Regions from separate parts of the Homo sapiens genome. Here region 2 is linked to region 1. The links come from fine-mapping of genetic effects on gene expression. Tissue or cell type: whole blood. Region 1 holds a variant in brackets; the other region holds the start of a gene. All regions are shown on one strand. Distances are between the middles of the regions.

Region 1 (7,476 bases):
TTGGACCTAGGCCACGGGGGGACCTGCACTCAGCTCCCCACTGTTGGCTGTGTGGCCTTAGAGGTTATCTTTTTTTTTTTATTTTGAGATGGAGTCTCGCTCTGTCGCCCAGGCTGGAGTGTAGTGGCGCGATCTCCGCTCACTGCAAGCTCCGTCTCCCGGGTTCACACCATTCTCCTGCCTCAGCCTCTCGAGTAGCTGGGACTACAGGTGCCCACCACCACGCCCAGCTAATTTTTTGTATTTTTAGTGGAGACGGGGTTTTACCGTGTTAGCCAGGATGGTCTCGATCTCCTGACCTCGTGATCCACCTGCCTCGGCCTCCCAAAGTGCTGGGATTACAGGCGTGAGCCACCGTGCCTGGCCTAGTTATCTAAGCATCTTAGAGCTTCTGGTTCCTTGTGCAGAAAGTGGAAATGCTGATTCCTGCCTTACAGGGAAGTTGTGAGGCTTAAATGAGTCATTTATTTCAGTGACTTAGCATGGGGCACAGGGTTTGGGGGAGTACGGGAGTCATGGTTTGTGATGGAGGTGACCCACAAAGCACAGACAGCAGTCCCTTTTTCTCTCTAGCGATGCTCATTGTCTTAAAGTTGACGCGGTCTCATTGGTGCTAACAGAGTCACTCAGCTTTGTCATGACCAGTGTCAGCTTGCTCTGTTGTTTTCTTGTATTTTTTACTGGTCTGTGTGTTTATGTTTAAGGTGAGTTTCTTGTACACAGAATGTAGATGTAGTTGGGTCTTCTTGTTATCCAGTCTAATGGGTTTTTTTAATTGGAATTTTTAGCCCATTTTAATTTACTGTTACTATTGATGTGGCTGGGTTTAAGTCTGTCATCTTGCTCTTTGTTTTCTCTTTGTCCCTTTGATTTTTTTTCCTTTCTTTCTTTTCTTTTTTTAAAAAACAAGTGTTTTTAGTATTCTGTCTACTGTGAGTTGAGCTGTACATCTCTGTGTTGTGTTTCAGGGGTTGCTGGGGGCTATAATCATCTGACTTGAAATTACATCACCCTGTTGACACCAGAAGAGCCTTACGGCAGTGTGTGTCCATTCATGCCTTTCCTGTCCTGTTACTGTCACACATTTTATTTTTACGTATGACATAAACACCCAGTATGGTTTTTTTTTTTTTTTTTTTTTTTTTTTTGAGAGATGGAGTCTCCCTCAGTCACCCAGGCTGGAGAGCGGTGGTGCGATCTCGGTTCACTGCAACCTCTGCCTCTGAGTTCAGGTGATTCTCCTGTCTCAGCCTCCCAAGTAGCTGGGATTAGAGGCACCCACCATCATGCCCGGCTAAATTTTTTTTGTATTTTTAGTAGAGACGGGGTTTCACTGTGTTGGCCAGGCTAGTCTCAAACTCCTGACCTCAGGTGATCCGCCCGCCTTGGCCTTGCAAAGTGCTGGGATTACAGGCGTGAGCCACCGTGCCCGGCCCTGTTTTTGTTTTAAATAGTCAACTTTGTTTTAAGGAAATTAAGAAAGAAGGAAAAAGTCTTCTATTTTTGCCATTTATAACATTCTTCATTCTTTCAGTATAATCTGGTCTGGTTATTATTTCTCTTCAGCCTGAAGAATTTTTAATATTTCTTGTAATGCAGAGCTGCCAGTCACAAATCCCCTCAGCTTTTGTTTATCTGAAAACATCTTGGTGCCTTTATTTTGCAAAGGGCATTTTCTCTGGATATGCATTTCTAGGTTGACAGCTGCTTCTTTTTTTTTTTTTTTTTTTTAATTCAGCAGTTAAACTGATGTCACTTTAAAAGATCTCATTACTAGGCTGGGCGCAGCGGCTCACGCCTGTCATCCCAGCACTTTGGGAGGCTGAGGCAGGTGGATAACCTGAGGTCAGGAGTTCGAGACCAGCCTGGCAAATATGGTGAAACCCCGTCTCTACTAAAATATAAAAATGAGCTGAGCATGGTGGCGGGTGCCTGTAATCCCAGCTACTCAGGAGGCTGAGGCAGGAGAATCGCTTCAACCCGGGAGGTGGAGGCTGCACTGAGCTGAGATCGCGCCACTGCACTGCAGCCTGGGCGACATGAGTGAGACTCTGCCTCAAAAAAAAAAAAAAAAAAGATATTACTTTGTTTTCTGGCCTGTATTGTTTCTGCTTAGAAGTTGGTGTTGATTCTTATCCTTATAAACTGTGTATAATGGCACCCTTTGATTCTCTGCCTTAAGATTTTGCATTTAATTTTGGCTTCAGCAATTTGACCATTGTGGTTTTTGCTTTCGTCCTGCTTGGGGCTCTTTAAACTTCTGGGTCTGTGGGATGATCATTTTTGTCAAATTTAATACATTTCAAGCCATTGCTTCTATAAATTACTTTTTCTGCATGATCTCTCCCTTTCCTTCTGGAACTTTATTGTCCCATACGTTGCTGAAGCTCTGTTTGTTTTTTCTCAGTCTTTATCTTTGCAATTCATTTTGGATGATTTCTGTTGGCTTGTCTTCAAGTTCACTACTCTTTTCTTTCTTGTTTTTAATATACTGAAGCCCATCAAATGAATTTTTTTTTAATTTCTTGAGACAGGGTCTTGCTCTGTTGCCCAGGCTGGAGTGCAGTGGCACAGTCATGGCTCACTGCAGCCC[G/A]AACCTCCCAGGCTCAAACAATCATCCTGCTTCATTCAGCCTCTTGAGTTGCCAAGACTACTGGCGTGGGCCACGTGCCGGCTACTTTTTTTTTTTTTTTTTTTTTTTTTTTGTAGAGATGGGGTCTCCCTATGTCACCCAGGCAGGTCTCAAACTCCTGGGCTCAAGCAGTCCTCTCACCTTGGCCTCCTAAAGTGCTGGGATTACAGGCATGAGCCACCACACCCGGCCCCATCTAATGAATTTAACGCTTTTTATTGTAGAGATTCCCCATCTGATAAACCATTATGTCCATCTTTTCTTTTAAATCTTGAAACATAACTTAAAAATATATATAAAGATGGGGTCTTGCCATGTTGCCCAAGCTGTTCTCACACTCCTTGGGTCAAGCGATTCTCCCTCCTCGGCCTCCCGAAGTGCTGGGCTTACAGGCGGGAGCCACTGTGCCCTGCCTGTGTTGTCTTTCTTTAAGCTTAGAGTCTTGGGTTTTATTCTCGCAGGTAGGTAATGAGCTTGTGCGTCAGCTTGGTCTGTTTGAAGCTTGTTTCTAAGCTTTGTTTGGGCAGCTCTCCAGCACCTCTAGAGAAGCTCCAGGGATAGAGCAGCCCAAGGCGTGTGGCCTCTCCAGGGCTTCAGTTGGAGTTTTGTGTCTTTGTGTCTTCGGTAAGGTCTTGCCACACTGGCTTTTTGGAAGTCCAGTATCTTTTAGCATTCCTCTAGAATTTGGGTTCAGCTCATAGTTTTGTTTTTTTTTTTTTGAGGCAGAGTCTCACTTTGTCTCCCAGGCTGGAGTGCAGTGGCGCACTCTCGGCTCACTGCAGCCTCCACTTCCCATGTTCAAGCAATTCTCCTGCCTCAGCCTCCCGAGTAGCTGGGATTACAGGTGCCCGCCACCATGCCCAGCTAATTTTTGTATTTTTAGTAGAGACAGGGTTTTGCCATGTTTACCAGGCTGGTCTTGAACTCCTGACCTCAGGTTATCCACCCGCATTGGCCTCCCAAAGTGCTGGGATTACAGGTGTGAGCCACTGCTGCCGGCGTCAGGTCATAGCTTCTTAGTAGCTGTTCTCTGCCAGGCCTTGTGACATCTTGCTTTGCACATGGCAGCCTAATTTGGCCAACGACTCAAGGAGGGCTCTGTCTAGATTTCTAGAGCCCCTTTGCTGTGGTGCTCCCTCCCCTCTGTGGGCTGCCCTGCAGACCCAGCTGCACTAGCGCCCCTGGACGTCCCGTCTCTGCCTCCTCGGCTCAGCAAGCTCCCGTGTGTTGCTCTGGCCCTGCCTCCCTGCACTGTGGCTGGGCAGAAAACAGGTGACTGTGGGGCCCATCTTATGTGGTCCCATGTCTTAGGCTCCTGTCTCTCAAGCTGCACTGCTTGTCTGACATCTGGAAACAACGGCTTCCCCTTCTTGTCCAGTTTCATCATTTGCATATGGAGGGAGGGCTGTTCAGACTAATTATCTGTCATGGCTGGAAGTTGACAGTTGGCCTCGTGTTTCTCTTTTGAAGTCAGCCGTCAGTTTTATTGTTGCTCTTTCAAAGAGAGCATGTCTTTTTTTCTTCTGGCAGGTTTTGGGACTTTTCTCTTTGTTTTTCAGCAGTTTTTCTGTCCCATTTTGGGGTGTGTGTGTGTGTGTGTGTGTGTGTGTGTGTTTGTGTGTTTTGAGACAGAATCTCACTTTGCCGCCCAGGCTGGAGGGCAGTGGTGTGATCTCGGCTCACTGCAACTTCCGCCCCCTGAGTTTAAGTGATTCTCCTGCCTCAGCTTCCTGAGTAGTTGGGATTACTGGTGCCTGCCACTGCGTCCGGCTAATTTTTGTATTTTTAGTAGAGTTGGGGTTTCACCATCTTGGCCAGGCTGGTCTTGAACTCCTGACCTCGTGATCCACCCGCCTCGGCCACCCAAAGTGCTGGGATTACAGGCGTGAGCCACCGCGCCTGGCCCTAAAATCACTCTCTTGAATTTACTGTATGTTCTAACTCCTGTTTCATTTCAGGGTCTATTTTAATGTTTTTCTCCATTTTTCTGCTGTTCTTTTATTGTAAGCTGGACATTGTGGACCCTGCAGTGTTGAAGATCAGTATTGTGTGGTCTTTTTTTTTTTTGAGAAGCAGTTTTGCTCTTGTTGCCCATGCTGGTGTGCAGTGGCGCGTTCTCGGCTCACCGCAACCTCCGCCTCCCAGGTTCAAGCGATTCTCCTACAGGCGTGCGCCACCATGCTGGGCTAACTTTTTGTATTTTTAGTAGAGATGCGGTTTCTCCATGTTTGTCAGGCTGGTCTCAAACTCCTGACCTCAGGTGATCGGCCTCCCAAAGTGCTGGGATTACAGGCGTGAGCCACCACGCCTGGCCGGGGTGTGTGTTTTTAACTTACCCTGTTGGGGTCTGTAGTGCTTCTTGATTATGTTGTTTGATGCCTCTGGTTAGTTTGGGAAATTTTTCAACTGTTGTCTCCGAATATTCATTTTGCATATTCCTTCCCTCCCTCTTGCCACCTCCCCCTGTGGCCAGTCACACACGCGTTAGGCCTTTCCGTTGTGTCTCTTTCCTGTGTTTTCCTTTTGTCTTTTCGTGCTCTAGTCTGGATATTTCCTTTTGAATAAACTTGCCATTAATTCTTCCCCCAGGAGCTGCAGAGGCTGGAGACAGAGTTGGGCCAACCCGCTGAGCGCTGGAAGGACACCTGGGACCGGGTGAAGGCTGCACAGCGCCTCGAGGGCCGGCCAGACGGCCGTGTGAGTGAGGGCCAGTGTGAGCGTCCACGGTGGGCGTGTTGCTGGGAGAAAGTGGAGTCTGTCCAGCCCTGACCCAAGTCCCAACCTCCTGTTCCCAGGGCACCCCTAGCTCCCTCCTTGTGTCCACCGCACCCCACCACCGTCGCTCGCTGGGTGTGTACCTGCAGGAGGGGCCCGTGGGCTCCACCCTGAGCCTCAGCCTGGACAGCGACCAGAGTAGTGGCTCAACCACATCCGGCTCCCGTCAGGCTGCCCGCCGCAGCACCAGCACCCTGTACAGCCAGTTCCAGACAGCAGAGAGTGAGAACAGGTATGAGGGCACCTCCCACTGCCACATGGACACCTCTGAGCTGGTGTTCTGGGGTCCCAGGCAGTCCTCTGGTGGGAGATTGCGGGTGCTTTTGAGGAGCTTGCTTAAGTATACACCACCACTGGGAGGGGTTTGGGGTGTCGAACTGGTGACCACAGCTGACCACAGCCTGCAGTGGCTGAGGGAGGAGTAGAGAGAGGGCAGTGGTGGGGCCCCCGTGAGTCTGGAGTCTGGCAGGATCCATCCCAGGCAGCTGCTGCCGTGGCTGCTTCTACAGATCTACCTGCCTGGCCATCCCTCTCCTCGTAAGGGCGCCTGCCCTGTGTAGGGGGCTGCTTTCCCAAGACCCTGAGGCTCTGGTGTGGGGATGCTCCCTGGAGTCTGGAGGGTGTGAGGCGCCCTTCACTGTCTCCTTTCTGGGCGTCGTCTTCTTGGGCCTGCAGCCCCCCATCAAAGGCTTCTTTGTGGCCCCCTGGCCAGTGCTCTGGGCTTAGGTCAGTTCTGGGGACAGGGTGCCTGGTCTTACCTCCTGGGCTGGGACAGCAAGGGGGGGACGACTGCTGGGGCCTGGGCTTGGCTGGGCCATGACGGTCAGCCTGGCCCTGGTTCTGCTGGAAATGCAGGTCCTACGAGGGCACTCTGTACAAGAAGGGGGCCTTCATGAAGCCTTGGAAGGCCCGCTGGTTCGTGCTGGACAAGACCAAGCACCAGGTGAGTGATCAGGTGGTGGGGGGGACTCACGGGGGAGGGGGCTCCGCTGACTCTGTGGCCTCCTCCAGCTGCGCTACTACGACCACCGTGTGGACACAGAGTGCAAGGGTGTCATCGACTTGGCGGAGGTGGAGGCTGTGGCACCTGGCACGCCCACTATGGGTGCCCCTAAGACTGTGGACGAGAAGGCCTTCTTTGACGTGAGCCTTGGCCGGGGCTTGGGAGAGGGGAGGGGCTCTGCGGTGTGGGGGCTGCGGAGTCAGTAACCCGCCCTTCCCCAGGTGAAGACAACGCGTCGCGTTTACAACTTCTGTGCCCAGGACGTGCCCTCGGCCCAGCAGTGGGTGGACCGGATCCAGAGCTGCCTGTCGGACGCCTGAGCCTCCCAGCCCTGCCCGGCTGCTCTGCTTCCGGTCGTTACCGACCACTAGGGGTGGGCAGGGCCGCCCCGGCCATGTTTACAGCCCCGGCCCTCGACAGTATTGAGGCCCCGAGCCCCCAGCACTTGTGTGTACAGCCCCCGTCCCCGCCCCGCCCCGCCCGGCCGGCCCTAACTTATTTTGGCGTCACAGCTGAGCACCGTGCCGGGAGGTGGCCAAGGTACAGCCCGCAATGGGCCTGTAAATAGTCCGGCCCCGTCAGCGTGTGCTGGTCCAGCCAGCGGCTGCAGGCGAGTTTCTAGAACCAGAGTCTATATAAAGAGAGAACTAACGCCACGCTCCTGTGCCTGCCTTCCCCACTCCCCGGCTGCCTGCTCTCGGCCTACCCAGAGGGTCCCATCTGCCCCTATCCAGGCCCACCTGGCGGGAGGTTGGCATCTTTCTCGTGAGCCTCTCCTGGTGCCTGGGTCCACCCAGCTCGGCCTGCATGTCCCTGGGAGTGACTTTGCTCTGGGGGCGGATCGAGCAGGAGGCTTCACTGGGGACTTGCTTGATTCCCTCCACGCCTCAGGGCTGGTCTAGGGGCCGGCACGGCTGGAGAGGAAGCCCCCATCCCTACCCAGGGGATGCAGAAGCTGACCTCACAGAGGCTTGGGGGTGAAAGGGTGGGTGGTCATTTGACCCCAGAAGGCTGTTGCAGGTCCAGAGGACACTTGAGGTGGACGTCAGTTTCTGGCTAGACCCGA
Region 2 (6,238 bases), 26 kb before region 1:
CTGATCTTGAAGTCTGGACCTCAAGCAATCCGCCCACCTCTGCCTCCCAAACTGCTGGGATTACAGGTGTGAGCCACCAAGCCCGGCCAAGTGTCACATTTATGTTGAAAGGTGGAGGGGCAGCCAAGAAGGCAGGTGCTGGGGAGGCAGGCAGAAAGGGCTTGAGGGGACAGAGTGGATGGGTGGGAGAAATTTAGCGGGGCAGGACGGGAAATGAGGGGCTCAGTTCCCGGCGAAGCCCTTCTGTTTGCTGATGTGGCAGCTGCTGAGGGGGTGGGAAGAGGTCGGGGCCTGGACATGCTGAGGCCGAGCTGCCTGGGGGTTGTCCAGGGAGAGGGGTCTGGTCGCTCCCCAGCCTGGCAGGCATGGGACTAAAGATAAGGCAGGTCGAGAACAGTTTTGGGGTTTCAGGGATGGCGCAGCCATGGAGGATATGGTGAGCCTCATCCACAGAGAATGCGGAGAGGCTGGCCAAGGATGGAGCCCAGCGCCAGCTCTGGAGGGGCAGGTAGGGAAGGGCCTGAGCAGGGGATCCCCCAGGTTCCCAAATCTGCTGCTGCGGCTTCTGCTGCTGCCTCCCCACTCGGCCCTCAGCCTTCCACACTGCCACCAGCTCTGTCCTTTCAAAACACAAGTGCAATCAAATCGTTCGCCCCACCAATAAAGAAAAACCAGCAAAAATTCCCTGTCCTCAAGAGGCTTTTTTTTTTTTTTTTTTTTTTTTTTTGAGACGGAGTCTCGCTCTGTCACCCAGGCTGGAGTGCAGTGGTGTGATCTTGACTCACTGCAAGCTCCGCCTCCTGGGTTCACGCCATTCTCCTGCCTCAGCCTCCCAAGTAGCTGGGACTACAAGCGCCCTCCACCATGCCCGGCTAATTTTTCTGTATTTTTAGTAGAGTTTCACCGTGTTAGCCAGGATGGTCTCGATCTCCTGACCTCATGATCCGCCCGCCTTGGCTTCCCAGAGTGCTGGGATTACAGGCGTGAGCCACCGTGCCCAGCCCTCACAAGGTTTTTAATCTGGGACAGGTGGAGGACAGCCCCAGCGAGGGGCTGCGTTTCAGGCCCTGAGATGACAGGACAGTTGCTGCCCCTGTGAGCCACAGTCCTGCCTCCCGCCAGCTTGTGGGGAGGGTGTATCCTCTGCCCTCAGGCATCAGCCTGGCTGCTGCTTCTGCACCTGCCCAGCCCACCAGAGAGGAGGCCCCGTCTGTGATTCCCAGGGTCCCTGGTGCTTGTTGCATGTGAGTCCATTCTTAGTTGGAGAAGCTGCTTCTGGGGAGCGACGGGGCTGCCCCAGCACCGCTTATGATGGACACAGGTGAAGGGGAGACACAAGTTTCCAAATGTGCGAGGGCTGGGCCATAGGAGGGGGCGGTGGCCTTGGGGAATGCTTGTGAGAAGCAAAAGAAGCTAGGGTGGCAACTGGCTGGACAAACAGCATCTTGGGGTTTTTTCCTTTTTTTTTTTGAGATGGGGTTGCGCTCTATCTCCCAGGCTGGAGTGCAGTGGCGTGATCTCGGCTCACTGCAACCTCCGCCTCCCGGGTTCAAGCAACTCTCCTGCCTCAGCTTCCCGAGTAGCTGGGATTACAGGCACGCGTCACCATGCCTGGCTAATTTTTTGTATATTTAGTAGAGACGGGGTTTCACCATGTTGTGCAGGTTGGTCTCAAACTCCTGACGCCAAGTGATCCACCCGCCTGGGCCTCCCAGAGTGCTGGGATTTACAGGCATGAGCCACCACGCCCGGCCTTTGGGGGGTTTTGTTTGAGTGTTTTATGATGGCAGAGGTAAGTTTGACTCTGATAGCAAGGAATCCATAGACAGGGAAGGATGGAGTTTGGCGGCGGGCACTGACAGTGAATGATGGCCTGAGATGAGGAGTGGGCAGGGGGGCAGAGCCCTGTGGTAATGGAGGGAGGGGTGGTGTGAGAGGTGTAAGATGGGGGCTTGGTGCTCCCATCTGATAGCTTCTATTTGCTCTCTGAGGAGCAGCCAATTATCTCAGAGACACTGGAAGTGGGGTGAGAGGTTCGAGGAGAGTGCAGACTGCAAGACAGCTGACCAGAAATCAGCAGGCTGGGCGGTAGGGAGGGGCATCCATCCATCTGAGACACTGAGCCACTGTGGATGGTTGTTCCCAAGGGCCTGGTGGAAGCATGACAGTGGAGAGAGTGCGACGCAGGGTCCCCAGAGTCTCAGAGAGAGTGGAGAGTGCGGTGCAGGGTCCCTAGAGTCTCTCCGAAGAGAGCCAGCCCTGGGCTCAAGCACTAGCCCAGACTTGCCCCGGGCCCCTGCCAGCCTGCACACAAGCTCAGTGGTGTGGTAGTGTGGTGCTGAGGACCTTTTTGGGTACAAGTGACAGAAACCAACTTGAGCCAGCTGGGGCAAAAAGGAGGATTTCTGGCAGGGCACAGTTTCTCACACCTGTAATCCCAACACTTTTTGAGGCAGATGCAGGAGGATCATTTGAGGACAGGAGTTCAAGACAAGCCTAGGTAACTTATCAAGACCCTGTCTCTACAAAAAAATTAAATTTTAAAAAGATGATTTCTCAACCTGTGAAAACCAACAGTGGGAGAGGAGAGGCGTAGCGTGGCCTGTGCCTGAGGGCAGGGAGGGGACCCTGGTGGGGCCTCTCAGTTTGATTCCATTCATTCTCTTGGGCTGGCTCCTGCCCATGGATGGAGACTGGATGCCAGTCATTTGGCCAGTTCTTGCAGCAGCCAAACTCATTTAAAAACAGACCTTCAGGGCCAGGCGCGGTGGCTCACACCTGTAATGCCAGCACTTTGGGAGGCCGAGATGGGCGGATCACGAGGTCAGGAGATCGAGACCATCCTGGCTAACACAGTGAAACCCTGTCGCTACTAAAAATACAAAAAATTAGCTGGGCGTGGTGGCAGGTGCTTGTAGTCCCAGCTACTCGGGAGGCTGAGGCAGGAGAATGATGTGAACCTGGGAGGCGGAGTTTGCAGTGAGCCAAGATCACGCCACTGTACTCCAGCCTGGGCGACAGAGCGAGACTCTGTCTCAAAACAAACAAACAAAAACAAACAAAAAACAAAAAACAGACCTTCGGGCTGGGGGCGGTGGCTCATGCCTGTAATCCCAGCACTTTGGGACGCCATGGTGGGTGGATGGCCTGAGGTCAGGAGTTCAAGACCAGCCTGGCCAACATGGTGAAACCCCCTCTCTACTAAAATACAAAAATTAGCCGGGCATGGTGGTGCACACCTGTAATCCCAGCTACGCGGGAAGCTGAGGCGGGAGAATTGCTTGAACCCAGGAGACGGACGTTCCAGTGAGCCAAGATGGTGTCACTGCACTTCAGCCTGGGTGACGGATTGAGACTCTGCCTCAAAAACAAAACAAAACATAACAAAAAACAGACCTTGGCCTGCTGTGCTCAGAGGGGTTTCCCTGCTGCACCAGGCTGGCTCCTGCACCTTCTCTCCCAGCATGTTCTGCTCTGGGCTCATGCTCATCCCTGAGCCACTTCAGGGGTGGCCCTGGCCAGCCCTGCCCTTGAGAGGGGTGGGCACTGTCAGGGATCCTGGGGGATGCAGCTTTCCCAGAGCCCCCTGCTCCGTGGCCTCATGTGCCTCACACGCTTAGAACATTTGCTCTTTACAGGGGGACATGAGCGTGCCGTTTTTAAGCTGTGTTAAATGTCTCACTTGGCCTAGATGGGGGCTCTTCAGCCTGGGACCCCAAGGGCAGGGCCTGAATTCTCTCTCTGTTCCCCATCGCCAGGCTGGCAGCCCCTGAGGTGATGGCCCTGCGCCTCCTCTGACTTCTAGTTTGGGGGGCCCGGTAGGCAGCGCCTAGGCTTCTCCCGCCTTTCTCCCGCTGGACAGAGAGGGGCGGGGGACGAGGAGTCTGGGGACCCGATCCCCAGATTGGGACGGCCCAGGGGTGGGGTTCGGGCTCCTGTGCGGGGAGTCCCAACGGCGAGGGCAGCTGTGGTCCTGGCCCATGCCTCCCGCCGACACCACAGCCGACCCGGGTCAGGGCGTCAGACCCGCCGGAGCCGTAGTCCAGGTGCCCGGCCCGAGGGGCGGTGCTCGGGCCCCAGAGTGGTCAGCGATGGGCGGGGCGCTGCTCTCGGGAGCCGCCCTCCCACCCTCTGGACCAATGGAGATGCGCGGTTGCAGGCCCCGCCCGCTCAGGGCTTGACGACAGCGCGCAGGCGCACGGCGCGCCCGGGCGGGCCGGCTGGCTGGGAAGATGGCGGCGGGAACCTGGGCCGCCGCCGCCGCCGCCGCCGCCGCCGCGGAGCGAACCAGGGGTGTCCGGGGTGCGCGGTCCAGGGCCGGGGCCGGGCCATGAGCGCGCCGTCCTCGAGTCCCCGAGCCGCGGAGCCCGCCCGCGCCCCTCGGGCCGCCCCGCGTCCCTCGCCATGGCGCGGCTCGCGGACTACTTCGTGCTGGTGGCGTTCGGGCCGCACCCGCGCGGTGAGTGCCGAGGCCAAGCGCTGAGGGCCGGGGGCCGAGGGTCGAGTGCTGAGGGCCAGGGGCTGGGTCTGAGGGTCGAGGGCCGGGGGCTGGGGGCCGAGGGCTGGGGGCTGGGTCGGGAGGCCGAGGACTGAGGGCCGGGCGCTGAGGGCCGAGGACCGGGGGCTGGGCGCTGAGGGCCGGGGTCGGGGGAGCCGAGGACTGAGGGCCGGGGCCGGGGGCCGGGCGGGGACTGAAGGCCAGGGCCGACCGGACAGCCCGTGGGGAGAATGGGCGTCCGCTGGGGGCGGCGTGGCCGCGCGGGCCTGGTGGCGGCAGGGAGAGAAGGCTGGGCCCGGCCTGCCCGGCCTCCTTGGGGTGGGACGGGCTCTCTCCTTGGCCAGCTGCGGGCGGCTGTGGCTCTAGTGGCTCCAGGGGCGCGGACCCGCGGCTCGCCAGCCCGCCTCTGACCTTGGTGCTCCGTCTGAAGCCCCCGGCGGTCTTGGCGGGGTGCAAAGAGGGGGTGGAGTTCGGGTTTGGTGCATGGAGAAGCGGTGTTTGATTTGAAACTGGGAGGATTTGAGGAGGAAGCGTCGAGAGTAGAGAGAAGAGCATTCCTGGCGACTCGCCTGACGGTCCAGGCCCTGCACGCCAAGCCCTGGGTGGGGTATCAGCGTGGCGGTCGGTGCCCATGCCCAGGAGGTCTGTGTGTGGGGTCAGCGCCCGTGTCTGAGAGCTCTTCAGCCCAGGAGGTAGGAGAAAACGGAGCCTGACGATGACATCAGCAACAGCCTGGAGACAGCAGCGTTGGCGAGCGTGCTTGGTGTGCCAGGCCCCGCACAGCCCTTTGTGTACATGATCTCACCTCTTCCTCCCAGCAGCCCACCGGGGTTGCCCTGGTGTTGCCCCCATCTGTAGAGAAGTTAGGCGCGGATAAGCTGACTGCCTGGCCTGAGCCGGCTCAGAGAGGCTGGGACTGGCACTCAGGCTGTCAGATCCCAGCTGCAGACTGGCAGTGTGTGGGGATGGCTGTGTGGTCAGGCAGGGGCTGGATCTTGAGCCTGGAGGTGGGATTGAGCTTGCCTTCCCAGTTACCCTGTTTTTTGTCAGTCCAGTTGTCACTGTCCCCACCAAGGACCTGGAGTTCTCTCTTTTTTGTGTTTCTTCTGCTGGACACCCCCCTACACTTCCTGAAGCCTCTTTAGCATCTTCTTCGTCTCCAGCCCCTCCTCAGTGCCCTCTTACTCAGCACACACTCCTCTCTGCTCATGTCTATCCAAGTGTGTGTCTTATGGCACCGTCAGTCATGAGCATCTGTCTTTTTCTTTAGAGAGGGAGTTCTCGCTTGCTAGGACCACATAGTCCTCATCCCCACTGTGCAGGTTGGCTGTCAATGTTGTCTTGACCCACAGAGGGAGCTGTCTGCACCGAGGCACCTATGAGGGGCATGGAGGAGGCCTTACCACCTGGGGCAGAGGGTGCCTGAGGATCCAGGGAAGCAAGGCTGGCTGAGGGCTGTCTTGGCGTGAGGGGCCTTGGGCTGAGGGCTGGGGCGGGGGCTACAGGAACAGCTGATAATGACCCTGATGATCCTGAGGGCAGTGTGGAGAGGGTTTGGGTTGGTAGAGACTGCAGGCAAAGGCCAGGTGGGAGGCGTGGTGGCCGTGGGGTGAGGAGTTGAAGGTAGGCAGAGAGAAGAGGCAGAGTGGGCTCCACAACAAGCTGGCTGTGACGTGTGTGCTCACTGCTGGAGCCACACGTAGTGCAGGCACCTGTTTGTGTGTGTCCTTTGCGCAGGAC

The links. PIP is the estimated chance that this variant, and not a neighbour inherited with it, causes the effect.
Region 2: SBF1 starts here. The variant in region 1 is fine-mapped to the expression of SBF1 in whole blood (TOPMed, PIP above 0.99).

The regions. Positions count from the first base shown.
Region 1 is chr22:50,446,396-50,453,871 of GRCh38, reverse strand. It overlaps SBF1 (SET binding factor 1), which reads left to right. Exons shown (of 41, transcript NM_002972.4): 37 at 5,222-5,329; 38 at 5,428-5,639; 39 at 6,263-6,350; 40 at 6,419-6,550; 41 at 6,632-7,476. The coding sequence ends at 6,730. Among named protein-coding and RNA genes, the nearest start is that of SBF1, 25 kb to the left of the region's middle. The variant G/A (reference allele first, on the strand shown) is at 2,594.
Region 2 is chr22:50,473,007-50,479,244 of GRCh38, reverse strand. SBF1 (SET binding factor 1) reads left to right here and starts at 4,210. Exons shown (of 41, transcript NM_002972.4): 1 at 4,210-4,459. The coding sequence starts at 4,405. RefSeq lists enhancers at 3,048-3,957, 4,868-5,777, 5,778-6,238 and silencers at 4,054-4,258, 3,839-4,298, 4,719-4,848.